2 separate regions of the Homo sapiens genome follow, and region 1 is linked to region 2. The links come from fine-mapping of genetic effects on gene expression. A gene starts in region 2. The other region holds a variant in brackets. All regions are shown on one strand. Distances are from middle to middle. Region 1 overlaps ARF4 (ARF GTPase 4). Region 2 holds the start of DENND6A (DENN domain containing 6A).

What was found.
Region 1: its variant is fine-mapped to the expression of DENND6A in whole blood (TOPMed, PIP above 0.99).

Annotation. Positions count from the first base shown.
Region 1 is chr3:57,568,096-57,581,343 of GRCh38, forward strand. ARF4 (ARF GTPase 4) reads right to left here. Exons shown (of 6, transcript NM_001660.4): 4 at 9,221-9,292; 5 at 7,453-7,578; 6 at 3,268-4,203. The coding sequence ends at 4,117. It also overlaps a transcript of PDE12 not described here. Among named protein-coding and RNA genes, the nearest start is that of PDE12, 18 kb to the left of the region's middle. The variant T/G (reference allele first, on the strand shown) is at 9,837.
Region 2 is chr3:57,684,544-57,701,073 of GRCh38, forward strand. It overlaps DENND6A (DENN domain containing 6A), which reads right to left and starts at 8,534. Exons shown (of 20, transcript NM_152678.3): 1 at 8,239-8,534. The coding sequence starts at 8,475. DENND6A-DT (DENND6A divergent transcript) reads left to right here and starts at 8,662. Exons shown (of 2, transcript NR_135550.1): 1 at 8,662-8,799; 2 at 9,273-12,108. RefSeq lists an enhancer at 7,862-8,362 and silencers at 8,084-8,323, 8,434-8,533.

The sequences.
Region 1 (13,248 bases), 120 kb before region 2:
AAAGCACTTGTTTTCAATGACAAGTTAGGAGTCACTTTCAAACCTCCATGACAAAGAACCAGGTATTTCACATTTAATTAAATTTGGGCAAGGCAGAGTGGCTCATACCTGTAATCCCAGCACTTTGGGAGGCCTAGGTGGGTGGATCACTTGAACTCTGGAGTTGAAGGCCAGCCTAAGCAACATGGCGAAACCCCATCTCTACAAAAATTAGCCAAGACTGATGGCGTGGGCCTGTAGTCCCAGCTATGTGGGAGGCTGAGGTGGGAGGATCGCTTGAGCTTGGGAGGTTGAGGCTGCAGTGAGCTGTGATCATGCCACTGCACTCCAGCCTGGGCGACAGAGCGAGACCCTGTCTCAAAAAAAAAAGTTTGATCATAGTAAGTGACCTGAAAGTAATTACTACTGCCTGAAAGATAATTCTGTATACTCAAGTAAACTGAAGTGTCTGAATGAGACACCAATACTCTCCACAAAAGATACACTTCTTTTTTTTTTTTTTTTAATAGAGATGGAGGTCTCACTATATTTACCAGGTTGGTCTCAAACTCCTGGCCTCAAAGGATCCTCCCGCCTCAGCCTCCCAAAGTGCTGGGATTACAGGCATGAGCTACCATGCCTTTTTTATTTTCAATGGAGGGTATATAAGGTAAGTGGAAAATTTCATGGAAATTGAAACTCTTAACAAAATATCAAGATATTACATCACAGAAAAGCAGCTTATGTTAAAGTGAGACAAAAGACAATGGGAAATGTTATGGACAAAAAAAAAAAAAAAAATGCTTATTGGACAGGGGAACCAGAGAGCAGATAATCGTACTATCCTCAACTCTGATGCTGCCAAGTGATCCTGTAAGGGAATCACAATTTCTCTTCAGTTTCTCTACTGACATTATTTGACAATTAGTTGACAGAATACTTTTTAATCTAGGGATATAATCAACTGTTCTGTACAATAGGGGCGGTCACAGAGAACTCTTATTGCTTGACCAACAGTAGGTTTAACATTTGAATGAACAGTAAGCATTGAATCTTGATAGCATCAACTATTTCATAATACTTCAATAAATAAGGACAGTGACAGTGATTTTATGTTTGCATAAAACAGGGAAAGGCTAGGGGTTATCTCTCAATACTTTCTCCCAAAACATTTAAACCACTTCTGTTTGGAAAAAGAAAAAAAGGAACTTTAAAAAAAAATACAAAGACTGAAGAAAAAATAATTTTTAGGGGTAAATGTGTCAAGTTGCTAATACTTTATTATTATTATTATTTTGAGACGGAGTTTCACTCATTGCCCAGGCTGGAGTGCAATGGTGCGGTCTTGGCTCACCACAACCTCCACCTCCCAGGTTCAAGCAATTCTCCCACTTCAGCCTCTCGAGTAGCTGGGATTACAGGCATGCACCACCATGCATGGCTAGTTTTGTATTTTTAGTAGAGATGGGGTTTCTCCATGTTTGTTAGTCAGTCTGGTCTTGAACTCCCAACCTCAGGTGATCCACCTGCCTCGGCCTCCCAAAGTGCCAGGATTACAGATGTGAGCCACCCCACCCAGCCTAATACTTTCTTTAAAAACTATAAAAATTACCTGGGCATGGTGGCTCATGCCTGTAGTACCAGCTACTTGTGGGGCTGAGATGGGAGGATCACTTGAGCCCAGGAAGTAAAGGTTTCGGTGAGCCAAGATCCTGCCACTGGACTCCAGCCTGGGTGACAGAGTAAAACCATCTCAAAAAAAAAAAAAAAAAAAAAAAGGTAATTTCCAATGGTACTAAGAGCTGCTTTACATCACGAGTAAGATTACATAGATTCTCTAGTCCCTTTACAGTCCATGTAAACACCTTTGCATAACTAGGTTAAATACCTAGCCCTAACGCTGAACTTATTCACTGATGTTTTATATTTCCTAGTTGATGCCCCATAAGACTACACACACAACAATTATACTATAGTTCAGTTTTATCCTATAGGAAATGACACCTGTCTTCTTTGGAAGGAAGAAAGGAGAATTCATCCAGTTGGCTAGGGAAATTGCATTTCTAACAAGTAACACAAACTAAACATACACTTTGCCCTACCTAATCATCAACCAATTCTAATTTCCTTTTGGTTAATCCAGTGTTTTTTTTTTTTTTTTTTTTGGAGACAGAGTCTTGCAGACCGTGTGCAGTGGCGCTATGTTGGCTCACTGCAACCTCTGCCTCCCAGGTTCAAGCGAGTCTCTTGCCTCAGCCTCTCAAGTAGCTGGGACCACAGCATGCACCAGCACACCAGACCCTTTTTTTTTTTTTTTTGTATTTTTAGTAGAGATGGGGTTTCACCATGTTGCGGCTGGTCTTGAACTCCTGAGCTCAGGCAATCTGCCCACCTTGGCCTCCCAAAGTGCTAGGATTACAGGTGTGAGCCACCACGCCTGGCCATTGTTATTTATTTGACAATTCAAAAATATACATTTTTTTAAAAGTATGCATTTGATTTTGGAATTTTCAATCCATAAATTTAGCTGAATCTTTACAAGCCATTAAGAATGCAACATGAGAATATAGACAGAAACTAAGTTACTCAGTTATCAAGTTGAGCCCTTAAAACTTAATAGATGTAGTTTATGAGGTATACCTTTGTATGAATTATATGCAGCTTTCTGTTAAAGTTCTAAAATTTGCCCTGTTAAAAAGAAAAGTGGTTGTGAAACTTTTTTGTAGGAAAGTAGCATCACTAAGTCTCTATATTGGCCATACAAGTAGCACCTGAATTTTTTTGTTTAATTAACCTTAACTAAAAAACACATACATACATGCTTTTTGGGCAGTTCATTTTATTACAGCCTTTTACTCTCCCTACCCCACTCCACATGCCGCCCCTCCCCACCCCCCACCTGATTTTTTTGTTGTTGTTGTTTTGTTTTTAGTTTTTTAAGTAGAGACAGGGGAAACAGGGTCTTACTACATTGCCAAAGCTGATCTCAAACTCCTATTCTCAAGTGACCCTCCTGCCTCAACCTCCTAAAGTGCTAGGATTACAGGCGTGAGCCACCATGCCAGGCCCTCCTTTTACCCTTGATCTGACTTTAGAAAACTATGTTTTTAATAGTGTTCCCCATGCTGTTATACACATGAAAACAATCTAGATCTCCACTTTATACAATTAGTAACCTACCAGTGGGATCTGTGTTACTGTTCACAGTACATAAAATATGCAAGCAAAGTTGGCTACATAAGAAAATACATTTCAAATACCTTCAAAACTCAAAAAGAACACACACAATTACGTATTTTATCATTTTATTAGGAATAATTCCAAATGGGTTATGAAGAAAATGTATTCATCGAATTTGATGAGTTTTCCAAAAACTCTTAATGAAGATATGTCTGCCCAATAAACAAAACATCAGCAGAACTATCATATACTGAGCAAAAAATCAGGCTGATAACAAAAGCAACATGCAACATAAAAAAGACACAATATAAAGGAAGACAATCTGCTGAGTATTAAAAACCATCTAAATATCAATTCTTTGCAACCAGCACAGAACTAATTGGCTATCAAATCCAAACCCCACCAAGGTTAAGTTTGGCTGATGTAGGCCAGGAGTCAATGTAGGGGGAAAAATTTCCTCAGTGCAAGAGAGCTGAGTAGTGTTTTGGATCTTTCTCTGGCTGGTACAAGCAGTATTAGAAAATCTTTTTGGCAAGGGAGAGAAATAAATACAAATGGAATGCTACATTTTTAAATTAGCAAACTGTCTCAGGAATGATAAAGGTATCAGTAAAGTAGCAAGGGGATAACTTTAAAACATTATTTGTCTGGGGCTCAAAAAACACTCAAAACAATTTATTTAAAGGTTGCACAAGAGCTATGTCCAGGCATTTACGCTTATGGGAAGTAAAATTAAAAGAGGATACTTTTTTCCCAAGGAGAATTTCTTTAAAACCAAGCACATTGCTAAATAGCAACATTATACTCGGTAAACAATAATTGGCAACAAAATAAGTTTAATATTCTGCCCAAACCAGTCCCAGATACTGTTTAATAACCAAGATACAAACTAATTTTGTTGTAACAAGCCTAGACCAATTTTATCAAACATGTCCTTGGTTAGATATCCAATTTCATTTAACGTTTTGAAAGCTCATTTGACAGCCAGTCAAGTCCTTCATACAGACCAGTTCCTTGTGTTGCACAAGTGGCTTGAACATACCACTGTAAAGAGAAGACAAGAAAATACTTGATTAACAAAGTTAATATATAACACCAGTGTTTAAACTTTCTTAATCAAACTTAAGAGTCTTTTCACACCTCTTGCATCTCACAAAACTCTCCCATATTTAAAGCTACTTCTGGCTGGGCGTGGTGGCTCACACCTATAAATCCCAGCACTTTGGGAGGCGGAGATGGGAGGATCACTTGAGCTTAGTAGTTCGAGACCAGCCTGGGTAACATGGTGAGACTTTGTCTCTACTTTTTTAGATTAAATTATTTTTTAAAAATAAAGCCACTTCTACCTATTCTGGAGGTTGCAGTGAGCCGAGGCTGTGCCACTGCACTCCAGCCTGGGCGACAGAGTGAGACTCCGTCTCAATCAATCAAGCTACTTCTACCTATTCATTATATTTAGACAAGATTTTCCCCCCTCATTCAGCTTTCTTTTCAGTGCTGGTTTTTGGTTCCCTTTTAGTAAACTTTCTACCACTTAATCTGAAAAAAGAAATCATGGGGAAATTAGTAACTAATAAACTACCCATCTGGTTTTTATAACTCTCGTTTCCCATAAAACTAAACTCAAAGTAGAAGAGGCAAATTTTTGAAAGAGTAGGGTTTGTTAGGCCGGGCGTGGTGGCTCACACCTGTAATCCCAGCACTTTGGGAGGCTGAGGCGGATGGATCATGAGGTCAGGAGATCGAGACCTTCCTGGCTAACGCAGTGAAACCCTGTCTCTACTAAAAATACAAAAAATTAGCCGGGCGTGGTGGTGGGCGCCTGTAGTCCCAGCTACTCAGGAGGCTGAGGCAGGAGAATGGCATGAACCCAGAAGGCAGAGCTTGCAGTGAGCCGAGATCGTGCCACAGCACTCCAGCCTGGGTGACAGAGCAAGACTCCATCTCAAAAAAAAAAAAAAGAAAGAAAGAAAGAGTAGGGTTTGTTGATATTTTAAGGGCAAGCTTTTCAGACAATTTCACCATCTTTAGTCTCATGCATTCCAAAACGTTCTTGCTTTTAAATGGCAACGAATCTTATCTCTAGTAACTGTGTGAAAGTATCAAAAAAAACCTAGAAAACAATTTACATTTAAGGCATAGTTTACTTTTATTAATTTTTTTGACCAGTTTAATGTTGCAAGGCCACTGCAGGTATACCATGTTGCCAATTATTTGAATACCAAATCTCAGTAACCTAGGAGGCTGGGGAAAGGCTCAAATTCATACCTTCACAGCATGGAAAACTTGTATCATTTACAGTTAGTGTTGCTTGCTTATTTATTGATTGATCGACTGATTGTTTTGAGGCAGAGTACTCACTCTTGCCCAGACTGGAGTGCAGTGGCGTGATCTCGGCTCACTACAACCTCCGCCTCACAGGCTCAAGAGATTCTCGTGCCTTCAGCCTCCCAAGTAGCTGGGGTTACACACATGCACCACCACGACCAGCTAATTTTTGTAATTTTAGTAGAGACAGAGTTTTACCATGTTGCCCAGGCTGGTCTCGAACTCCTGGTCTCAAGTGATCCGCCCACCTTCGCCTCCCAAAGTGCTGGGATTACAGGTGTGAGCCACCACACCCGGCCCAGTTTATGTTCTTCAAATCAGCCTGAGATATCTCAAACAGGCAATAGGTTGTTTTTTTTTGTTTGTTTGTTTGTTTTGAGACGGAGTCTCGCTCTGTCACCCAGGCTGGAGTGCAGTGGCGTGATCTCGGCTCACTGCAACCTCTGCTGCCTGGGTTCAAGTGATTCTCCTGCCTCAGCCTCCAGAGTAGCTGGGCTTGCAGATGCCTGCCACTGCACCTAATTTTTTTGTAGTTTTTAGTAGAGATGGGGTTTCATCATCTTGGCCATGTTGGTCTTGAATTCCTGACCTCATGATCCACCCACCTCAGCCTCCTAAAGTGCTGGGATTACAGGCGTGAGCCACTGCACCCGGCCTGCAATAGGTTCTTTGTTGTTTGTTTCATTTTTTACCACAGCCACAGTATTTCCCTTATTTACAGGTTAATGCAAAACTACTGTAAAAAGCCTATGACACTAAGTTTCTGATAATTTATCTCCATCACTGAATCACTGATCAATGATAAGCAATTTTAGAGAAGTACAAATTTTTTTTTTTTTTTTTAAAGAAACAGTCTTGCTCTGTCACCCAGGCTGGGGTGCAATGGGCACAATCACAGCTCTCTGCAGCCTCCAACTTCTGGGTTCAAACAGTCCTCCCACCTCAGCCTCCCAAGTAGCTGGGACTAAAGGCACATGCCACCACACCCAGCTAATTTTTATTTTTGTAGAGATAGGGTTTCACTTTGTTGCCCGGGCTGGTTTGGAACTCCTGGCCTCAAGCAATCCTCCTGCCTTGGGTTCCCAAAGTATTGGGATTACGGGTGTGAGCCGTGGTACCTGGTCTCCTCCATAAACTGTTATGTTAACAAGCAAACAAGGCTGGGCACCATGGCTGGAATCCCAGCGCTTTGGTAGGCTGAGATAGTGAGAGGATTGCTTGAGTCCAGGAGTTCAAGACCAGCCTAGCAACAAAGCGAGACCCCCCATCTCCACTTTTTTTTTGAGACCGAGTTTCGCTCTTGTTGCCCAGGCTGGAGTGCAGTGGCGCGATCGCGACTCACCGCAACCTCCACCTCCTGGGTTCAAGTGATTCTCCTGCCTCAGCCTTCCTGAGTAGCTGGGATTACAGGCATGCGCAACCACACCTGGCTAATTTTGTATTTTTAGTAGAGACAGGGTTTCTCCCTGGTTGGTCCGGCTGGTCTCAAACTCCCGACCTCAGATGATCTGCTCACCTAGGCCTCCCAAAGTGTTGGGATTACAGGCATGAGCCACCGCACCCAGCCCCCCATCTCCACTTTTAAAACAAGCAAACAAACATTACTGGACCCTTAATAAGAAAGCCAGATTTCAAAATATTTGCTGTAGGGTTACTTAAAAGATACAAAATTAAAATTAAGACTATCAATAATCTTCTTTCCATTCCTTCCACCTCTCCCTTCAAAAAAAAAAAAAAAGAAAAAAGAAACTATCAATAATCTTTAGACCTATTCTACAGTAGTTTTCCGTTTCTTTACAAAAATCAAATAAGGTATTTAAAGTTTATTACCATATTTTTAAATAAATGATGTGCTCATTATTTGTCCAAAGGAGATAATAAATGTTTAAACTGAATATTAGCTTACACAACTATCCTAGTAAGTCTTAATAGTCAAGAGGTTAATATCAACCTCCAAATACTTACTGTTCTGTTACGAAGAGACTGAAGCCCTAGTTTATCTGTCATTTCACTGATGGCCATAGCATTTGGCAAATCCTGTTTGTTTGCAAAAAGTAGCAGCACTGCATCTCTCAATTCATCTACCAGAAGCTGGAAATAAAAGGTAAGGCATTAACAACTACCAACCGGAATCCAATTTTTGAAAATGTCTTCCTATATATACTTTACTCAGCATTAAATACATTATTAAACATTAACCTAATTTCTCGACACAAAGTTCACTCTTACAACTGAAGTCTCATATCCTTCAGTTTTTAAATCCAGAGCAAACAATCATATGCCTTCAAATAAGACAGAACTGTTTTCCAAGTCAATCATCCTACACCCCATTAAATTAAAGCAAATCACTCATCATTCAGCCTTCATGATTACCCATTGTCAGGACTGATAAGGGCAAGAAATACATGTGGGAATAAAATGTTTATGGCAGGTTCTTATGGTACTTAGTAGCAGAAGTACTTAGATAGATGATGATTCTTTTCGGACTTCTATCCTTTCCAACAACAGTGGGACAATAACACAATTATCTGGGTGTTGGCAGTATCATGAAATATACAAAAAAAAAGTACCAAGAACAGAAGTTGTACTGATGCATGATGCAATATAGACGAACCCTGAAAAATTATGCTAAGTGAAAAAATCAGTCACAAAAGAACACATTGTATGTTTTCATTTATATGAATGTCCAGAATAGGTGACTGTATAAAGACAAATTAGTGGCTGTCAGAGGCTGGGAGTGTGGTGTACGAGAGGAAGGAAATGGGAATGACTGCTAATGGTCCAAGATTTCTTTGAGGGTGATGAAAATTTTCTAGTATTAGATTGTGATGATGGTTGTACAACTATGTATGCTAAAAGCCATTGATATGCACATTTAAAAAGGATGACATTTATAGTGTGTGAAGTATGTCTCAACCAAGCTTTTTTTTTTTTTTTTTTTTTTGAAGAGGGAAAGCTGGTGACATTTGACTCAGGCAAAAATCCAACAATGACTTAGTTACACATATACTGGCACAATGGTTTTACAAACTGCCCTCTAATCTTAGGAGGAATGAACAAGAATTAAGATTTCATTTCAGTAAATATTTTATGGCTACAAGTTTAAAATCATGACAAGGATTCTCAGCAGTCTTCCTCCATTTAGTACATTTAACAACATGAACACATGAAAACATTAATCCAATCTATGGGAAGGCTGCAAAATGCCACTGTGAACCAAACATTTGTCTCTACTTTCAGAAGGAATTCCTTATCCTTAAATGGTTACTATTAAAAAACATTTCTGAAGTAATTATTGGCACAGCATAGAGAAAATGGAACCGATGACCTTGGGAACAAAACATCTGAACCAAGATTCCTAGGGTCAAAACCACTACAGCACTATAGATTTGATATCTGTAAAGTAAGGGACTGAGCTAAATCAGATATCCTCAGCCAGAGATAGGCATCAAGATTACCCATGAGGCATTCTAAAAAAAAAAAAAACAACACTGCTCTGCCTTCCTCCCAACTTACTGAAGTAGCTACTCTTCCATGTGTTTTTTAAAACGCTCTATAAGAGATTTTGAAGTACATTATTAAGAACCTGTGGATAATATAGTTTCTTAAGTTTATTTCTAGCCCCCCCAATCCATTTGTGTAATCTAATCATAGTCAAAATGTACTAAACCACCACCAGTTTAATCCAGAAAAGCACACCTTGAAAATGATGAATTTAAAGTATATTTCTTACCATTTTCTGCAGCTCATCTGCTACTTCCTGAATTCTTTCACGATCGTTGCTATCTACCACAAAAATAAGACCCTGGGGAAAAATTGTTTCAGTAAATTTTAACAGTTAAACGACACTCTCTATATGAAACAGTGTAGGCAGCAAAATGGTACCAATGGTTAGACATTAGGAAGAAAATGTCTCTTTAAAAGTAAGAACTTAAGGCTGTAATGCTAAAAGCTGATTTGAGAACTATTTGTAAGTTTAATTTATTAGTGCTATTTCAAATCTAAAAAATTTTTATTCTTCACCAATTAATTACTTTTCTCAACTACCCTAAGAATAAATTGTATCTATTTTTCCCCTTCCCTCTGCACTCTCACATTTAAGTGCAGGTACCAAAATAGCCACAAAGTAGGAACAAAAAGAAAAATAACAAATCAAGGATCCTAAAGAATCGTGAATTTGGCCAGGCATGGTGGCTCATCCTGTAATCCCAGCACTTTGGGAGGCTGAGGCAAACGATCAGGCCTGAAATTGCTTGAACTCAGGAGTTTGAGACCAGCCTGGGCAACATGGCGAAAGGTCATCTCTACAAAAAAATACAAAAATTAGCCAGGTGTGGTGGTGCATGCCT[T/G]TAGTCCCAGCTACTTGGGAGATGAGGTGGGAGGAATCACGAGCCCGAGACGGAGGTTGCAGGGAGCTGAAATCGCACCACTGCACTGCAGCCTGGGTGGCAGAGCGAGACCCTATCTCAAAAAACAAACAAAAAAACCCCATGAATTTACTAACTGAATTAGCTTACTGACTCAAAGGCATGTACAGAGTAATAAAAGGGGGGTGGGATAGCGCGAGTGTGTACACTACAGTTTTTATCTGCTTCATCATGGAAGGAAAAAATTAACTTGCTTCAGAATGCTGCCTGCCAACTCTAGATCAGGAAGACATCTTAAGAAAATGATAGCAAGAAAAATCCAAGACTGGGCGCAGTGGCTCACTCCTGTAATCCCAGCACTATGGGAAGCCAAGGCAGGAGGATCACTGGAGCCCAGCAGTTTGAGACCAGCCAGGACAATATGTCAAAACCCTATCTCTTAAAAAAAAAAAGAAAGAAAAATTCAAGATTTACCTGATCGAGTAAGACATTCTTTAAAAAAAGGAAGGTAGTTATCAATTCTTAGAGATACAAATATTAGCTTCTTTTCTCAGACAGGGTCTCAACTCTGTTGCCTAGGAGCACAGTAGCACAATCTTGGCTCACTGCAGCCTTGACCCCCTGGGCTCAAATGATCCTCCCGCCTCAGCCTCCCAAGTAGCTGGGACTACAGGTGCGTGCCACCACACCTAGCTAATTTTTCTATTTTTTGTAGAGATGGGGTTTCACCACGTTGCCCATGTGGTCTCGAACTCCTGGACTCAAGTGATCCACCCATCTTGGCCTCCCAAAGTGTTGGGATTACAGGCATGAGCCATGGCACCTGGCCCATTATTAGAATTCTATACTACAAAATAAATGGAAGGAATTAGGAAGCAACTAGTTGAACTGTTTTTCTAAGAACTTTCAAATGGGAAAGTATAGAATTTTCAGCTAGAAAAGGGGGGGGGCAAAAATAAAAATAATAAAAAAGAAAAAAAGATAAACCTTGACTCCTAAAGTATCAATTTTGATCATGTCACTTATAACAGATTGTCTTGCACTACTGATTTATGTAAGTAACGAGGCTGGTTGAGGTGGCTTTCGCCTGTAATCCCAGCATTCTGGGAGGCCGAGGCAGGTGGATCACCTGAGATCAGGAGTTCGAGATCAGCCTGGTGAAACCCCATCTCTACTAAAAATACAAAAATTAGCCGGGCATGGTGGCACACCTGTAATCCCAGCTACTTGGCAGGCGGAGGCTGCAGTGAGCCGAGATGGCGCCATTGCACTCCAGCCTGGGCGACAAGAGCAAACTACATCTCAAAAAAAAAAAAAAAAAAAAGGAACTAGATTACATCCACTAAGGGCAAAGGACTATACTATATCTTTTTTTTCACCCAGGCTGGAGTGCAGTGGTGCCATCTCAGCTCACTGCAAACCCCTCCTCCCAGTTTCAAATAATTCTCCTGCCTCAGCCTCCTGAGTAGCTGAGATTACAGGCGCCCACCATTACACCTGGCTAATTTTTGTATTTTTAGTAGAGATGAGATTTTACTATGTTGGCCAGGTTAGTCTTGAACTCCTGACCTCAGGTGATCTGCCTGCTTTGGCCTCCCAAAGTGCTGGGATTACAGGTGTGAGCCACCGCGCCCAGCCCCATCCTACATCATTTTCTGTTTACCTCTCAGGATTACCACAGTACTGGGCTCTCCAGGAGCATCTAACACTTATTTTACATCCATTAAATGACAATTTCCTTTGTTTTAGCAAATTGTAAGTCCATTTCCTTTATCTCTGTTGGAAACCATAACTTAATTTTTAAATTTTATTTTACACTGCATCTATACCACCTGGAAAACCATCACTTTAAATATCCTATCCTTTGAGAAAACTTTTGGCTGGCATGGCACCTCTAATCCCACCACTTTGGGAGGCTGGGGTGGGAGGATCACATGAAGTCAGGAGTTCAAGATCACCCTGGGCAGAGTAAGACCCTGTCTCTACGAAAAAAATTAAAATTTTAGTAGGGCATGGTGGCACATGTCTATAGTCCTAGCTACTTAGGAAGCTGAGAAGGGAGGATCACATGAGCCCAGGAGGTTGACTGAAGCTACAGTGAGCCATGATCATGCCACTGCACTCTAGCCTGGGTAACAGAGTGAGACCCCATCTCAAAAACAAAAAATAATGTTTGATGCTTTGGGAGCCAATATAGTGTGGTGGGAAGACAGACTCAAATTCAAATCTTATACTACTTGTTATATATATTATCTAATCCTTGACTATGCCTCGTCTAAATAAAATAAAAATACTAACTTCATAAGCTTGTTAAAGATTAAATGCAATCACAGAGATATAAAAGATCATTGTTCTTGGCTTATCATGGGCATTTATTTAGCAAATATGTCTCCTCCTTTCCATATTTCAAAAGCTACTCCTTTTTAGAACCAAACCTTCCATTTTTTTGTTTCTTCTTTTTTTCAAAAAAGAGGCAAGGTCTCCTTTTGTCCCCCAGGCTGGAGTACAGAGGCGCAACTGTAGCTCACTTCAGCCTCCAACTCCTGTGCTCAGGTGATCCTCCCACCTCAGCCTCTCAAGTAGCTGGGACTACAGGAGTATGCCACCATGCCCAGGTAATTTTTTTTTAATTTTTTTTTGTAGAGACAGGGTTTCACTCTGTTGCCTGGACTGGCCTCAAGTGATCCTCGTATCATGGCCTCCCAAAGTGTTGGTGTTTCAGGCATAAGCCATAGCACCCGGTCCTGAAACCTACCCTTTACAAGAGGTAATGCCCCTAAAAGGGACCTAATTTTATTTTGACTGCTAACTTCCCATTTTTATTCTTTTTTTTTTTTTTTAAATGTAAAGACAGGGTCTCACTATGTTCCCCAGGCTGGCCTCAAACTCCTGAGCTCAAGCGATCCTCCCACCTCAGCCTCCCAAAGTGCTGAGAGTACAGGCATAAGCCACTGCACCCAGCCTTTGTTTTAAAATGCAAATAATGCTATCAGTCCCAAAGTGACATTATTGAGAAGGAGAATTATTTTAGGTATTAATCCCTAATTATTTTCTTCCTGGAACAGCCTAGAATCAAGAGTGAAGAAAAGCTAGGATTCTACAGATAAGCCCAGCTGCTATGAAATTATTTGAAAAGCCAAATATTTACTTATTTACAATGGCAAATTAGTTGGAATTATAAGAGGAATTTACTACACACTGTGCCATGGTTTGTTAGTATAAGTTAGAAACATGGTTAAAGCTATAGTTTCTTTTAAATTTTATAGCTAGGAGAACTGATCAGTAATGCTGGGAATGCAAGCTAAGAGCTTAGCTTTGATTCTATCAGGTAACACATAAAGCTTTCCCCAGCTAGCATGAACTCCCTAGGAAGCAGTACTTAGACTTTTAATTC
Region 2 (16,530 bases):
GAGGCTGAGGCAGGCAGATCACTTGAGGCCAGGAGTTCAAGACCAGTCTGGGCAACACAGCAAAACCCTGTTTCTACAAAAAAACAAAAAAGTAGCCAGGCATGTTGGTACACACCTGTAGTCCAGCTACTTGACAGGCTGAGGTGAGAGAATTGCTTGAGCCTGGGAGGTCCAGGCTGCAGTGCACTGTAGCCTGGTGACACAGCATGACCCTGTCTCAAATAAATAAATAAAGTCCAAATATTACTTAATAATTAGTGACGGAAAGGAATAAATGAGGCTGGGTACAATGGCTCATGCCTGGGATCTCAACACTTTGGGAGGTGGAGGCAGGAGGTTCCCTTGAGTCCAGGAGTTCAAGATCACACTGGGCAACACAAAAATAAAACAATTTAATCAGGCATGGTGGCACACACCTGGAGTGCAATGGCACAGTCTCGGCTCACTGCAACCTCCGCCTCCCTGGTTCAAGTGATCCTCCTGCCTCAGCCTCCAGAGTAGCTGGGATTACAGGTATGCGCCACCATGCCTGGCTAATTTTTTTTTTTTTTTGTATTTTTAGTAGAGATGGGTTTCACCACGTTGGCCAAGCTAGTCTCGAACTCCTGACCTCAGCAGATCTGCCTGCCTCTGCCTCCCAAAGTGCTGGGATTACAGGCGTGAGCCACCACGTCCAGCCTAGAATTCTTGTTTATATGAGTTATATCTATCAACATTCACCACTGTAGAAACTAAAAGTATCATTAAAAAAAATTGTTTATTTATTTTAAAATAATAACCTATTACTCATTAACATATTCAATTTTTATGAAAAGTAACTATATTCAGGTTGAGTATTCCTTATCCAAAATGCTTGGTGGGATCAGAAGTGTTTTGGATCTCAGATCTTTTCAGATTCTAGAATATTTGAATTATACTTACTCAGTTGGACATCCCAAATCCAAAAACCTGAAATCCAAAATGCTCCAATGAGCATTTCCTTTAAAAAGCATCATGTCAGTACTCAGAAAGTTTCAGGTTTTGGAGCGTCTCAGATTTTGAATGTTTAGATTAGGAACACACAACCTGTATTCCTAAACAAAACAAAAACCTTACTAAGATGGCATTGTTTACATGTTTGCAAATATCTTTAATGTCTGATTTAACAGAAATAACTAGATTCTCATATCTGCTTCAGCATTCATTCTTTTTTTTTAAAAAAAAATTTGTTTTTCTTTAATGTTTGCTCTTGGCAGAATCATTCTATGTTCATTCTATTGCAATATGTTGTTCTGGTTGAAGAACATGAAGAAAAGCCATACATAGTTTGAAAACATCCTATAAATCCCCTGAAACGGTCTCAGAGATGCCCAGAAGTCCTCAGACCACATTTTGACAACAGCTGGTTTACAAGAAAAACAGAAAAGTTTATATAAAGAGAAAATTAAAAAACATACTCCAAACATGCCTACACATAATGATCCTCTGGAACTGATTCTGATTAAGCAGATGGGTGAGCCCCAGAATCCTCATATGTAACAAATGCCCCAGATGATTCTTATGATAAGAAGAACAAAATAAATAGAATCCCAATAATACAAAAATAGCCTAAATTTACCAAGATATAAATGTTTAGCCTCATTTTCAATAAGCATTAACAGATATTTCCATATCCCAGGTAAAACAGAACATAATCCTTTATTTCAAAGTTACATAATGGTGTAGAATTTTCAGGCACATATACCCTTGGCTCTCAAACAGCTCAAAGTTACTAAAGTTTATATCATAAAACCCAAGCTTAGAAATCTTTCAAAATAAATCTTTGATTACATAAGATTATAACTGCTCTCAGGTAAGGCAGTAAATGCTTGTTGCCTTCCAATACCATTCTTCCTTCTCCTTTTATTAATATAGGCATACCTTGTTTTATTGTGCATCATTTTATTGTGCTTTGCAGTTACCAGTTTCTACAAATTACAGGTTTGTGGCAAGCCTACATTAAGCAAGTCTATCAGCATCATTTTTCCAACAATGTGTTCACTTTGTGTCTCTGTGTTACACTTTGGTAATTCTCACAATATTTCAAACTTTTTTGTTACTATTGTATCTGTTACAGTGGTCTGTGATAAGTTATCTTTGATGTTACTATTGTAATTGTTTGGGGGCACCACAAACCATGCCCATATAAGATGGCAAATTTAATCAATAAATACATGTGTTCTGACAGCTCCACTGACGAGCCATTACCCCATCTCTCTCCCTCTCCTCAGGCCTCCCTATTCCGTAAGACACAACAATATTTGCAACTGGGGCAATGAATAACTCTATAATGGCCTCTAAGTGTTCAAGTAAAAGGAAGAGTCACACATCTCTCACTTTAAATCAAAAGCTAGAAATGATTTAAGTTTAATGAGGAAAGCATGTCAAAAGCTGAGACAGGCCAAAAGCTAGGCCTCTTGGACCAAACAGCCAACTTGTGAATGCAAAGGAAAAGTTCTTTTTTTCTTTCTTTTTTTCTATGCAACAGGGTCTCACCACGTTGCCCAGTCTGGTCTTGAACTCCTGGGCTCAAGGAATCCTCCTGCCTCAGCCTCCCAAAGCGCTGAGAATACAGGCCTGAGACACCACACCCAGCCAAAGGAAAAGTTCTTGAAGGAAATTAAAAATGCTACTCCAGTGAACACATCAATGATAAGAAAGTGAAACAGCCTTACTGCTAATGTGGAGAAAGTCTGAGTGGTCTGGATAGAAGAGCAAACCAGCTAGAACATTCCCTAAGCCAAAGCCTAATTCAGAGCAAGAGCGCAACTCTTTTCAATTCTGTTACGGCTGAGAGAGGTGATGAATCCGCAGAAGAAAAGTTGGAAGCTAGCAGGAGTTGGTTCATGAGGTTTAAGGAAAGAAGCTGTCTCCATAACATAAAAGTGCAAGGTGAAGCAGCAAGGACTGATAGAGAGCTGCAGCAAGTTATCCAGAAAATCTAAGAGAAAAGATGAAGGTGGCTACACTAAATAACGGATTTTCATTGTAGATGAAATAGCCTTCTGTTGGAAGACTATGCCCTCTAAGACTTTCATAGCTAGAGAAAAGTCAATACCTGGCTTCAAAGTTTCAAAGGATAGGATGACAGCCAGGTGTGGTCGCTCATGTCTGTAATCCTAGCACTTTAGGAGGTGGAGGCACGAGGATCCCTTGAAGCCAGGAATTTGAGACCAGCCTGGACAACAAAGCAAGACCCCATCTCTACAAAAAATTTAAAAATTAGCCTGGTGCATAAGCATATGCCTGCAGTATCAGCTACCAGGGAAGCTGAGACAGAAGGATCACCTGAGCCGAGAGTTCAAGGCTTCAGTAAGCCATGATTGCATCACTGCACTCCAGCCTGGGTGACAGAGTAAGACCACCTCAAAAAAAAAAAAAAGAAAAGAACATCTGCTTTGTAAAATTATATTTATGAAGAGTTTTTTGTTTTTTGGGTTTGTTTTTTTTTTGAGACAAAGTCTTACTCTGTTGCCCAGGCAGGACTACAGTGGTATGATCTCAGTTCACTGCAACCTCTGCCTCCCGGGTTCAAGCGATTCTCCTGCCTCAGCCTCCCGAGTAGCTGGGATTACAGGAATGTGCCACCAAGCTGCCTATTTTTGTATTTTTTTATTAGAGATGGGGTTTTACCATGTTGGCTACGGCGGTCTCGAACTCCTGACCTCAAGTGATCCACGCGCCTCAGCCTCCCAAAGTGCTTGGATTACAGGCATGAGCCACCACACTCGGCTTATTAAGAGTCTAATCATCTTACAAACTGTTTATGAGAATATTTATGAATAAAAGCAGACTCACAGTAGACATGTTTAGGAGACTGCTGCCCAGACTATGCTTTGGAAGTGTCCCTCCTATTGCAGGGGTGAGCCTAAGTGACTGCTACTGCTAGCGAAACCTTGTCTCCTAACCACAAGTGAACAAAATGGGACACCTGTCCCATGCTGAGCCAATCAGATACTCCAATATTAAGCTTCAGCCTCATTCCAGAAAAAGAGTTTGGCTAAAATTAGTACCATGGAAACCCAAAGTCAAGCAGAGTAACGGGGGAGCAGAAACTGAGGCCACTGCAGCACAAACCAGCTTCAGCATGGAGAAAAGAACAGACATGCAAAGACCAAAGACAAAAAAAAACACACAGCTCCAGAGACAAAGGCCTGGGGCTTTCCAAATCCCACAGGTTCATCCTTGCTTCCCACACACTTGGATTCCAAAAGACTGCCTGGAATCCTTACAATCACTGTCCCTTTACTTAAGTTTATTTGAGGTTTCTGTTCCTAACAATCAAGTTAATCCTTGACAGATACAAAATTATATAAAGAAAAAAAGTATTAACAAAAATGCCGAATATTAATAGCAGTTGCCTCTTAGTAGAATTAAGAGTGATATTTTCTAGTGTTTATAATTTTTCTTTTTTTTTGAGACAAAGTCTTGCTGTGTCGCCAGGCTGGAGTGCAGTGGCCCGATCTTACTGCAACCTCCACCTCCCAGGTTCAAGCGATTCTCCTGCCTCACCCTCCCGAGTAGCTGGGACTACAGGTGTATGCCACTGCGCCCAGCTGATTTTTGTATTTTTAGTAGAGACGGGGTTTCACCGTGTTGGCCAGGGTGGTCTCGATCTCTTGACCTCGTGATCTGCCCGCCTCGGCCTCCCAAAGTGCTGGAATTACAGGCATGAGCCGCCATGCCCGGCCTAGTGTTTATGATTTCTTTACTTGCCAAGTTTTCAGCAATGAGTATGTTATTATTCACTCAGAAAAAAAAAAAAAACTTGAATAAATAAGGTAATTCTGTATTCGGATAATTAAGGCTTTACTAAATAATTGGTAATTTCAAAGCTAAAAGTGAGGTACAGTATATCAAACCCAGGAGGTTTCAAACCTTGTTCCAGAGGACACTTTGATTCTGTGGTAATGCCTCCAGAGCCACTTCAGGGGAAAAGAAGCTCAGCACACCCCCTGCAGTCAACACCTTGTTCAGTTTCTTCCTAGCTCAAAGACCTCCTTAACCCCCTTCACTTAGGACAGGGCCTTAAAAGACATTTTATGCAAGGTGAACCACTCCCCCTTCTACTCAGGGCTTTAGCCAATTGTATCAGAGTAGGAACCTGCCCCAAACCAGGCCAGATTATCTTCCTCTGGCTTTGGAAGTGAGTTAAAGATTCACTCTTTTTCACTGAAGTGGCTAAAAACGTTAGCTTCTCACCTTAAAGATCAGAGAAGGGCTGGGCATGGTGGCTCAACACCTATAATCCCAGCACTTTGGAAGACAGAGGCAGCAGGACAGTTTGAGGCTACAAGTTTGAGACCAGCCTGGGCAACATAGCAAGACCCTGTCCCCACAAAAAAAATTAAAAATAGCCGGGTGTAGTGGTGCATGTCTGTATTCATAGATACTCAGGAGGATCCCTCGAGTTTAGGAGTTCGAGGTTGTAGTGAGTTATGATCATGCCACTGCACTCCAATCTGAGGCAGACCATGTCTCTAAGGAAAAAAAAAAAAAAAAGTCAGGTGCGGTGGCTCACGCCTGTAATCCCAGCACTTTGGGAGGCTGAGGCAGGTGTATCACTTGAGGTCAGGAGTTCAAGACCAGCCTGGCCAACATGGTGAAACCCTGTCTCTACTAAAAAAAACAAAAAAACAAAAAAAACAAAATTAGCTGGGCAGGCCAGGCGCGGTGGCTCATGCCTGTAATCCCAGCACTTTGGGAGGCTGAGGTGGGCAGATCACACTGTCAGGAGATCGAGACCATCCTGGCTAACACGGTGAAACCCCGTCTCTATTAAAAATACAAAAAATTAGCCGGGCGTGGTGCGGGTGCCTGTAGTCCCAGCAACTTGGGAGGCTGAGGCAGGAGAATGGCGTGAACCTGGGAGGCGGAGCTTGCAGGGAGGCGGAGCTTGCAGGGAGACGAGATTGCCCCACTGCACTCCAGCCTGGGCAACAGAGCAAGACTCTCTCTCTCAAAAAACAAAAATTAGCTGGGCATGGTGACATGCACCTGTAGTCCCAGCTACTTGGCAGGCTGAGGCAGGAGAATCACTTGAACCTGGGAGGTGGAGGTTGCAGTGAGCCGAAATTACACCACTGCACTCCAGCCTGGCTGACAAAGTTAGACTCTGTCTTTAAAAAAAAAAAAAAAAATCAGAGAAGGGGAAGAAGGCAGTTTGCAGGGAACATGAAATATAAACAAGATCTGCACACAAAAAAAGAGCAAAACCAAGAGGTTTCCCTGGTTCTGAACTCTAGCCATTTTCTGAAGCCCTACTAGGTTTATGTCTTAAATAGCTGGAAACCACATATATGGAACCACATACATGATTTCATCTTACTCAGCCTTTTCCTAGTGGAAAATTCACAATGTTCATATTTTTAAAAGATCCAGGAAGCAAAAGGTTAAGAACTCCTGACCTAGAAAAAACTCTATACAGTGGCATACACTATGGAAAATGAAATTCAAAATAAGTCCTTTAATAATTCACATTTTTGCAGCATCTCAAATATATTTTCTGTTTATTTGGTCAAAAAACATATTCACGTTATAAAGAATGTCCCAAATAATGAGAATCCAAAAGAATCTCCTTTAGCTATTTAAAAACACAATCAACTACAACAACCCATTCTTATGCTTTCTGGTTAAATTGTATCTTGCTGTACATATAACTTCAGGTTAACATGGCAAGGTGAATAATAAATGGCTTATAAATCTCTTACTCAAAATCTTTGGGAACTGTTTTTCTTACTTTAATAAGATAAAGAATTGCTCACATATTCACCTATTCTATCAAAAGTATTTATAGAATGCCACTAGGTGCCAGGCACTGCATTTGGCCTTATCAGCTACTATGATTAATTCTTGGTTCTCCTCTAAATTATTGCCTCAATCTACAAATACAGATTAGAGCACATCCTATTTGTATGCTCCACAACTAACATAATGCCTGGTTCTTAGTGGAAACTTAATGTCGCTGAACTGTGTTATAATAAAACATCCAGAAGGCAGGCCGAATACGAAAGCAGTAGCTTCGCATTAAGAAAACTACCCCTAGCCAATTTTCTTAGTCAACCAGGCCACTACAGTATTAATGAAATCGAAATCTGTCACCAATACCAAAAAAAAAAAAAAAAAAAAAAAACCAAAACCAAAACGTCTAAACAAACGCCCTTCTGATAACAATTTCCTTGGACACATGAAAGCAAGCAATTCCTTATGCTAAAAAGACCTTCAACAACGTCAAGAATAGATGTTTCTAAAGCCTTTCGGTAAGGGGCCATACATAAGAATGGAAAAGTTGACTGATTGACAAGCAAATGATGTTCCCTATATTCATCTTGACAGTAGTTTCACACCAACTGTTCCAGAGGCAACATAAAAAAAAATAACAGAAATGAGGCCGGGCACGGTGGCTCACGCATGTAATCCCACCACTTTGGAAGGCCTAGGCGGGCAGACCACCTGAGTCGGGAGTTCGAGACCAGCCTTACCAAAATGGAGAAACCCCGTCTCTATTAAAAATACAAAATTAGCCGGGCATGGTCGCATGCCTGTAACCCCAGCTACTCGGGAGGCTGAGGCAGGAGAATTGCCTGAATCCGGGAGGCAGAGGTTGCGGTGAGCCAAGATCGCGCCATTGCACTCCAGCCTGAGCAACAAGAGCAAAAACTCCGTCTCAAAAAAAAAAAAAAAAAAAAACAGAAATGAGGCACAAAAGGAGGAAAGGGAGAAAATGCGTGCTGAGATAAGCATTTCGACTCAGGCTGAGGGAAACGCTCAAACAGTTACTGCAAATGACTAAAACAATCTGAGCCTTAAAACTTGGTTGTGCAAGTTCGGCTACTAGAGTTCATCATCTGTTATGGGCATTGTTCTTGAAAAAGTACCAAACAAACATCCTGCCTGCGGGCTTCTCCGGGTGGGTGCTACTAACCCTTTTAGTTAATTCTGTGACTCTGCGTTTAAAAGAAATAAAGAAAGAACAGGATGAACATCAACAAGTATTTAGGAGGGGCCTAGAGAGAACTTTTCACCCCTAGCCGCAGCCCAAGATCCTCCCACGGGAAGTGCCGTAGGACCGCAGCCCGAAAGAGCGCGGGAGGGGAGACTGGCCACGCCCGGATGCGCCGCGGACAGGGTCCTGGCCGGTCAGCCCGCGGGCCGCTGGCTTTGCTGCAGCCGCCCCGGCGCAGGGGAGGAGCGCCGAGAAAGGGCGGGGCCGGGCCTCACCTCCACGGCCTGGCCCAGCTCCAGGTCGAAGCCCACCACACACACGCAGTGCAGCCAGGCGGAGAAGCTGTCCCAGCGCAGCAGGCCCCGGCCACGGCCATCGTCCTCTTCATCGTCCTCTGGCGCGCCTCCCGCCGCCACAAGGGCCGGCGCCTCGCGGCCCTCGGCCCCTGCCACCGCTTCGTCCAACGGCCTTCGAGAGCCGGGCCCCAAGCCCGCAGGGCCCCTCAAAGCCATCGGCCGCCCCCTGACCGTTCGCGCCGCCTCCACAGCGGACCGCGCCGCAGAGCGCGCTTGCCTCCGCGCAGGCGCAGACGCTGCTGTCGCAGCCGCTGGGGACCCACTCAGTCCGGGCGGGGCTGCGGGTCACGTGACCCTGGGAGCGGACGTGGGGACGTCACGCTGCCGCTTGTCTCGGATTGTGAAGCCGGTCCTGGCTTCCTTGTCTAAAAGCTCTTTGGGACTGAAATGGCTGTTTATGAATCCTTGTCAACCTCGTTCGCAGTCAACGACCAGGGAATAAATTATTCGTGGAATGACACAGTTCATAATTATTATAAGGTATTATTAAATTATGAAAGCGTAGGCCGGGCGCGGTGGTTCACACCTGTAATCACAGCATTTTGGGAGGCCGATGCGGGCGGATCATCAGGTCAGGAGTTCGAGACCAGCCTGACCAACATGGTGAAACCCCGTCTCTACTAAAAATACGAAAAAATTAGCCAGGCGTGGTGGAGCGCGCCTGTGATCCCAGCTACTCAGGAGGCTGAGGCAGGAGAATCGCTTGAACCCAGGAGGTTACAGTTAGCTGAGATTGCGCCACTGTATTCTGTCTACCCTGGGCGACAGAGCGAGATTCCGTCTCAAAAAAATAAAAATAAAATATATGAACGCATAATGGTGACGGTGGCTAACATTGAACGCTTACTTTGTGCCAGTTGATATGCCAAGTACAAGTGCGAATACTTACAAATATTACCTTATTGAATCTTCACATAATCGCAAATAAGTAGACTATTTATTTCTTTTTACAGATAAGGAAATGGAGGTCCTGGAGGTTACATGACTAGCCCAACAAGTATGACAACTCCGATATCGGCTTGCGGTTCACTCATTCAGTTTGCTGATTCAGAGATCTGTGCATTCACTCACCTGTTCCTTCTCCAGCAAGGCCTCCCCACCCTACCACCTCCTCCTTTCTTAGTTTGGCTGTCTGTGACTCACTCAACACACATCCCCAGACCTTTCTGGAACTCCAGGTTGGGCAGATTGGCCTCCACAGCAACCTGTGGATCTCTGAACACTGGGGCAAGGGCCTGGTCTCAAGCAGCTTCGTATTCTGAGATCAGTTTTTACTGAGTATTGGACCAGCCAGGATACTAACTAGTATTTATTCAGCACCTACTATGTTGAGTATAAATAGCATAGTAAAAGTAGGAAACACACAATAATACCTCAACAGAAAAATGAGTAAACCAGCGAGGTGTCACGCCTGTAGTCCCAGGTTCTTGGGAAGCTGAGGCCGGCTAAGTTCAAGGAGGATCGCTTGAGCAGGAGTTCCAGGCTGCAGCGCGCTATGATCGCGCCTGCGAACAGCCATTGCACTCCAGCCTGGGCAACAGAGCGCGACTGTGTCTCTAAAAAACAACGCAAAACAAAAAACACGGCAGAACTTAAGCATTTTGCTGCACTGCCCAGTGAAATCCATTCCATTTGACAAATACTGCCCTCTTAACATTCTTAGAATTTTTTTTTGGAGCAAGTGTTAGCGTCCCTGTTTTCAAGGAGGTGGTCAAGTATGCACAGACATCAGTAGTGACGTTTGCTGGAGACTTCCTTTAGACAAAAATGAACTTAGGGACAGCACTTAAGTTAGAGGCCAAGTCTTTGGCCAAAGTAGCCTGCCATCCTACTCCAGAGAACTGCTGTGGTTAAAAGAGGAAAAACTGTATTCTGCGATCAAGTAAGGCTCTAAACCCAGTATTAGGAAAGAACAGTAGCCTTTTGTATTAGAAAGAACACTGGCGTGGAAGTCAAAAGTTCTGGATTCTAGTGCCAGCTAGAATCTACCACGATCGTGGTAGGCAAGCTGCTCCAAAACCCAGTTTCTGGTAAATGAGAGTGATGATTACTAACTCACCTCACTGACTGTTGGGAAAAGCTAAGCTATCCTAATGTACACATTTTACCAGATGCTACTTCATTATTAATTATTAATGATCTCAAAACACCAGTTGTGGCCAAGCACAGTGGGTCACACCTGTAATCCCAGCACGTTGGGAGGCTGAGGCGGTAGAATCACGTGAGTCCAGGAGTTTGAGACCAGCCTGGGCAACATAGGGAGGCCCCGTCTCTTAAAAAAAAATTAAAAATTAGCTGGGCATGGTGGCACACACCTATAATTCCAGCTACTTGAGAGGCTGAGATAGGAGAATCACTGGAACCCAGAAGGTCAAGGCTGCAATGAGCCATCACTGTGCTACTCTACTCCAGCCTGGGCAACACAGCAAGACCCTGTGTCAAAAACCAGCACCAAAAAAGAACATAAGTTGTTCCACAGGGCTGGTTCTTCGACACATAGACACAAACTGCGATTCTGTGAAGTGTTGCTTTATAATATTGGGTTAAGGAGAAGGTCAAGGCTGCAGTGAGCCATCACTGTGCCACTCTACTCCAGCCTGGGCAACACAGCAAGACCCTGTGTCAAAAACCAGCACCAAAAAAGAACATAAGTTGTTCCACAGGGCTGGTTCTTCGACGCATAGACACAAACTGCGATTCTGTGAAGTGTTGCTTTATAATATTGGGTTAAGGATGATCTTGTCAAAATACAGTACCCTGAAAACAACATATTAGGAGAGCCAGAAGTTTCCAAAGAAAGAAAGCACACCAAAGCTCTAGAGAATTTTGAAAGTAAAAAACTTGTTTGGGGAGAAAAAAAACAAAAACAGAAAAAAGCATTACTTAAATCTTTATACACAGAAACAGAATAACCACTAGGGTAAACAAAGCAGCTATGGCTTTATTTCCCTCTACCTTCGTAACTTTGACATTCTGCCTTACAGTCTATTTTCACACAGTTTCTGTTGTTAATGGGAGCTGAGGAACAAGGTACTGACACCTTCTTATGGTTCATCAAAAGAACCTTTGACTCTGAAAGGATCTTGGATAGGATCATCTCTCCAAACTTCCTATTCATGGATCTTCTGACATTCAGTTAGCCAGCCTCTTTTCTAACACTCTCTATTAAAGTTAAGTCACTAGCCTGTGATCCCAGCACTTTGGGAGGCCAAGGCCGGTGGATCACCTGAGGTCAGGAGTTCCAGACCAGCCTGGCCATCATGGTGAAATCCTGTCTCTAGTGAAAATACAAAAATTAGCCAGGTGTGGTGGTGCACACCTGTAATCCCAGCTACTTGGGAGGCTGAGGTGGGAGGATCCTCTGATCTGGGGAGGCAGAGGTGACAGTGAGCTGAGATCACACCACTGCACTCCAGCCTGTGCGACAGAGGGAGACTCCGTCTCAATGAATAAATAAATAAATAGCCGGGCGTGGTGGCTCACGCCTGTAATCTCAGCACTTTGGGAGGCTGAGGCAGGTGGATCACTTGAGGTCAGGAGCTTGAAACCAGCCTGGCCAACGTGGTGAGACCCTGTCTCTACTAAAAATACAAAAAATTAGCCAGGTGTGTTGGTGTGCTCCCGTAATGCCAGCTACTTGGGAGGCTAAAGTGGGAGAATCACTTAAACCCGGGAGGTGAAGGATGCAGTGAGCCAAGATAGCACCACTGCACTTTAGCCTGGGCGACAAGAGCAAGACTCCATCTCAAAAATAATAAATAAATAAATAAATAAATAAATAAAGTTAAGTAACTACCTTTCAGAGCTACTATTTTCTGGGTGTTCATAAGGGCTAGAAAGTTCTTCCCTTTACAGAGACAAAATCAGCTACTTTGTAATACACACCCATTGGTCTAAGTTGTGCTTGCTGAGATTACACAGAAGAGTCCAACTCTTCTACATGATAACCCTGCGAACGTTTGAAAATAGTTATCCCACACCCACATGCCTTCTAGTTTTCAGGGTAACTACCCCACATCCTCCAACCGTTCCTCAAAAGATGTAGTTTCTAGGCCATTCATCATCCTGTTGCCCAACTTGGGCATACTCCAACTTGTCAACATCACTCTTACAGCCTGGGAGGAAATACCATCCTCCAGGTGTGATCTTAACATTGCAGAATGTACTCTGGGACTATTCCTTTCCTTGTCCCAGCCACCAGGCTTCTTTTAATGCCAGTTCATATCACATTTACTTGTTTTGGCAGCCAGGTCACATCACTGGCTCAGGTTGTATTTACTGTCAACTAAAGCCCTGGATCTCTTTTCATGTGAGGAGCACTTAAGTCAGGGTAGACTGTGTTAGCCAAGAGCATGACTAGATTCATGGCTCTGCTGCTCTTCTAATATTACCAAGAACATGGAACACAGGATTAAAAACATTCCAAACTTCTCTACTCACCCCTAACCAAAATCCTGGCAATTCAATAGTTTTAACAGAAGAAAGAAAAAATAAAAGGTTGAGCATCAGACAATGGTGTGAATTGTGAAATGCATTATCAGGTCTCTGGGCTTAGTTTTACCAAAAGGACCCACAGGGAGTCCAAATGTCCTAGATATTTACCTAGATGGGCAGCCAGGGGACTTCCCTCTTGCACTTAAGGTAAATGCTGCCAGGGCTGCTGGGACATAACTATACTTGCGGTGGTGAAAAAAATACATGGAAATATACACAGAGGCCCAATACCAATGTGTTATCAATAGAAAACTAAGTTTACTGCTGTACTTCTCTGGAAGACAAAAATGCTCAAATACAGATTTTGAAGGGAGGATCCAGCCAAAGAAAACTATAAAATGCACGATCAGGGCCAGACGCCATGGCTCATGCCTTTAATCCCAGCACTTTGGGAGGCCAAGGCAGGCGGATCACTTGAGGTCAGGAGTTCGAGACCAGCCTGGCCAACATGGTGAAACCCCATCTCTACTAAAAATATAAAAATTAGCTGGGCATAGTGGCATCCGCCTGAAATCCCAGCTGCTCAGGAGGCTGAGGCAGGAGAATCACTTGAACCTGGAAGGCAGAGGTTGCAGTAAGCCAAGATTTCACCACTATACTCCAGCCGGGGAAACAGAGCAAGATTTCATCTAAAAAAAATAAATAAATAAAATAAAAAATAAAATGCACTATGAAGTTTTCCCAGGTTGTGACAGCTTTAAAAAATGGTGGTTGGGTGTGGTGGTGGCTCAGACCTCTAATCCCAGCACTTTGGGAGGCCAAGGCAAGAGGATTCTTTAAAGCCAGAATTATGACAGCACACACCTGTAGTCCTAGCTACTCAGGAGGCTGAGGCTGGAGGATCACATGAGCCCAGGAGGTCAAAGCAGCAGTGAGCTGTGATTGCACCACTGCACAGCCTGGGCAACAGAGTGAGATGCTGTCCCCTCGACCGTTCCAAAAAAAAAAGAAAGAAAGAAAAAATAATGAAGAGCTGTTTTTTTGTTTTCGTTTTTACATTCTTATTATTGATACAATGCCTGGCATGTGGCAGGCACTCAGTAAATATTTAATGAATGAATGAATGCACTTTATTTTATTTTATTATTATTTTTTGAGACGGAGTCTCCCTCCGTCACCCAGGTTGGAGTGCAGTGGCACGATCTCGGCTCACTGCAAGCTCTGCCTCCCAGGTTCACGCCATTCTCCTGCCTCAGCCTCCTGAGTAGCTGGGACTACAGGCGCCTGCCACCACGCCTGGCTAATTTTTTTTATTTTTAGTAGAGACAGGGTTTCAACGTGTTATCCAGGATGGTCTCAATCTCCTGACCTCGTGATCTGCCCGCCTCGGCCTCCCAAAGTGCTGGGATTACGGGGTGAGCCACCGCGCCCGGCCATGAATGCACTTTAAAAAAGCATCTTGACTTTAGGAGGCCAAGGCAGGCGGGTCACAAGGTCAAGAGATCGAGACCATCATGGACAACATGGTGAAGCCCTGTCTCTACTAAAAATACAAAAATCAGCCAGGCGTGGTGGCACATGTCTGTAGTCCCAGCTACTTGGGAGGCTGAGGCAGCAGAATCACCTGAACCCAAGAGGCAGATGTTGCAGTGAGCCAAGATCACGCCACTGCACTCCGGCCTGGCGACAGAGCGAGACTCTGTCTCAAAAACAAAAAAAAAAAAAAACAAAACAAAAGCATCTTGAACTGCTCTTTCCTTATTTTAAAGAATTTTCCTTTTACTGTCACTTGTATGAATACATGAAAAGTTAACATAAAAATGTTTCTTAAGTGTAATGCACTCTTAGCTTAAGAAAGTAAAGATAACACTCCACTTATTTAAAGGTTACTTTTTGGCTAGGTGCAGTGGCTCACACCTGTAATCCCAATACTTTGGGAGGCCAAACTGTGGGAGGAGTTAGAGACCAGCCTGGGCAACATAGGGAGACTCCATCTCTACAAAAAAATTTAAAACATTAGCTGGGCATGGTAGCCAACACCTATAGCCCCAGCTACTTGGGAAGCTGAAGCAGGAGGATCTCTTGAGCCCTGGAGTTCAAGGCTGCAGTGAGCTATGATCACGCTACTGTACTACAGCCTGGGCAACAGAGCAAGATCCTGTCTCTATTAAAAAAAAATAAGTAAAATAAAAATAAAGGTTACTTTTCCAACTGTCTGATGCAGTTAGCACTAGGAAGTGGGTTTAATAGGCTCAATATAAGCCAAAATGCAAAACGGAGACTATAATCAAATGCATACTCTTCAATCAAAGAGATGTGAGGTCTTCACTCATAAGTTATTTTGTCTAGGTTTACACATAGTTCTGGCTGGTCCAAGTGCAGTGGTGTTTACAACTAATTGAAACTAATTGAACACTACCAATTAGAGATTTCTTCTTCTTTTTTTTTTTGAGACCAAGTCTTGCTCCGTCACCCAGGCTGGAGTGCAGTGGCGCAACCAATTAGAGATTTCTTTGTTCCTTTTCTACTCCCACTGCTTTGACTAGCCTTAAAAGTAATAATAAATTTACACATAATTTTAATAGATTTACTTGTCTGGTTTCCCAGACTAAGAAGCAAATAAGAAGAACAAAGAGGTTGCTTGAGGCAGAGCATGACAAGAGCAGAAAACAAAACACCATAGGTTAATAGAATAGAAGGAAAAGATAAAAAGGAGTCAGAAAACAAAACTTTAGATTATGCACAGTAAATTAGTAGTCTTTCCTTATAAGGCATAGAAGTGCCAGGAAATAGGCCAGGCGCAGTGGTTCACACCTGTAATCCCAGCACTTTGGGACGCTGAGGCAGGTGGATCACCTGAGGTTGGCAGTTCGAGACCAGCCTAACCAACATGGAGGAACCCCGTCTCTACTAAAAATACAAAATTAGCCAGCCGTGGTGGCACATGCCTGTAATTCCAGATACTCAAGAGGCTGAAGCAGGAGAATTGCTTGAACCCAGGGAGCTGAGGTTGCAGTGAGCCGAGATCATGCCATTGCACTCCAGCCTGGGCAACAAGAGCGAAACTCTGTCTTAATAATAATAATAATAATAACAATAATACATTAATTCCTTTGAACTGGAGCTGCAAGGTAAAAGAAAGAATAAAAATATAAAAATATTTTTAAAATTCTTAAGTTTCAAATTATGTACCATTCTGAGTAGCATAATGAAATCCCAGGGTGGTCCATCTTGCCCAGGAAGTGAATCATCCCTTTGTCCACGGTATCCATGTTGTATATGTCCCCAACATTTTTCCACAGACCAGAATGGGGGGATGGTTTTCATATGATTCAAGTGCATTACATTTATTGTGCACTTTCTTTCTATTATTATTGCATTGTAACATATAATGAAATAATTATACAACTCACCATAATGTAGAATCAGCAAGAGCCCTGAGCTTGTTTTCCTGCAACTAGACGGTCCCATCTGGGGGTGATGGAAGACAGGGACAGATATCAGGCATTAGATTCTCCTAAGGAGCAGGTAGCCTAGATCCCTTGCATGCGCAGTTCACGATAGGGCTCGCATTCCTATGAGAATCTATCTAATGCCACTGCTGATCTGACAGGAGGCAGAACCCATGCGGTAATGCCAGCAATGGGGAGCGGCTGTAAATACAGATGAAGTTCACTCACTGGCCCGCCGCTCACCTCCTGCTGTGTGGCCCGGTTCCTAAGAGGCCATGGAGTTCAGTACCAGTCCCTTGCCTGGGGGACTGGGGACCCCTGTTAT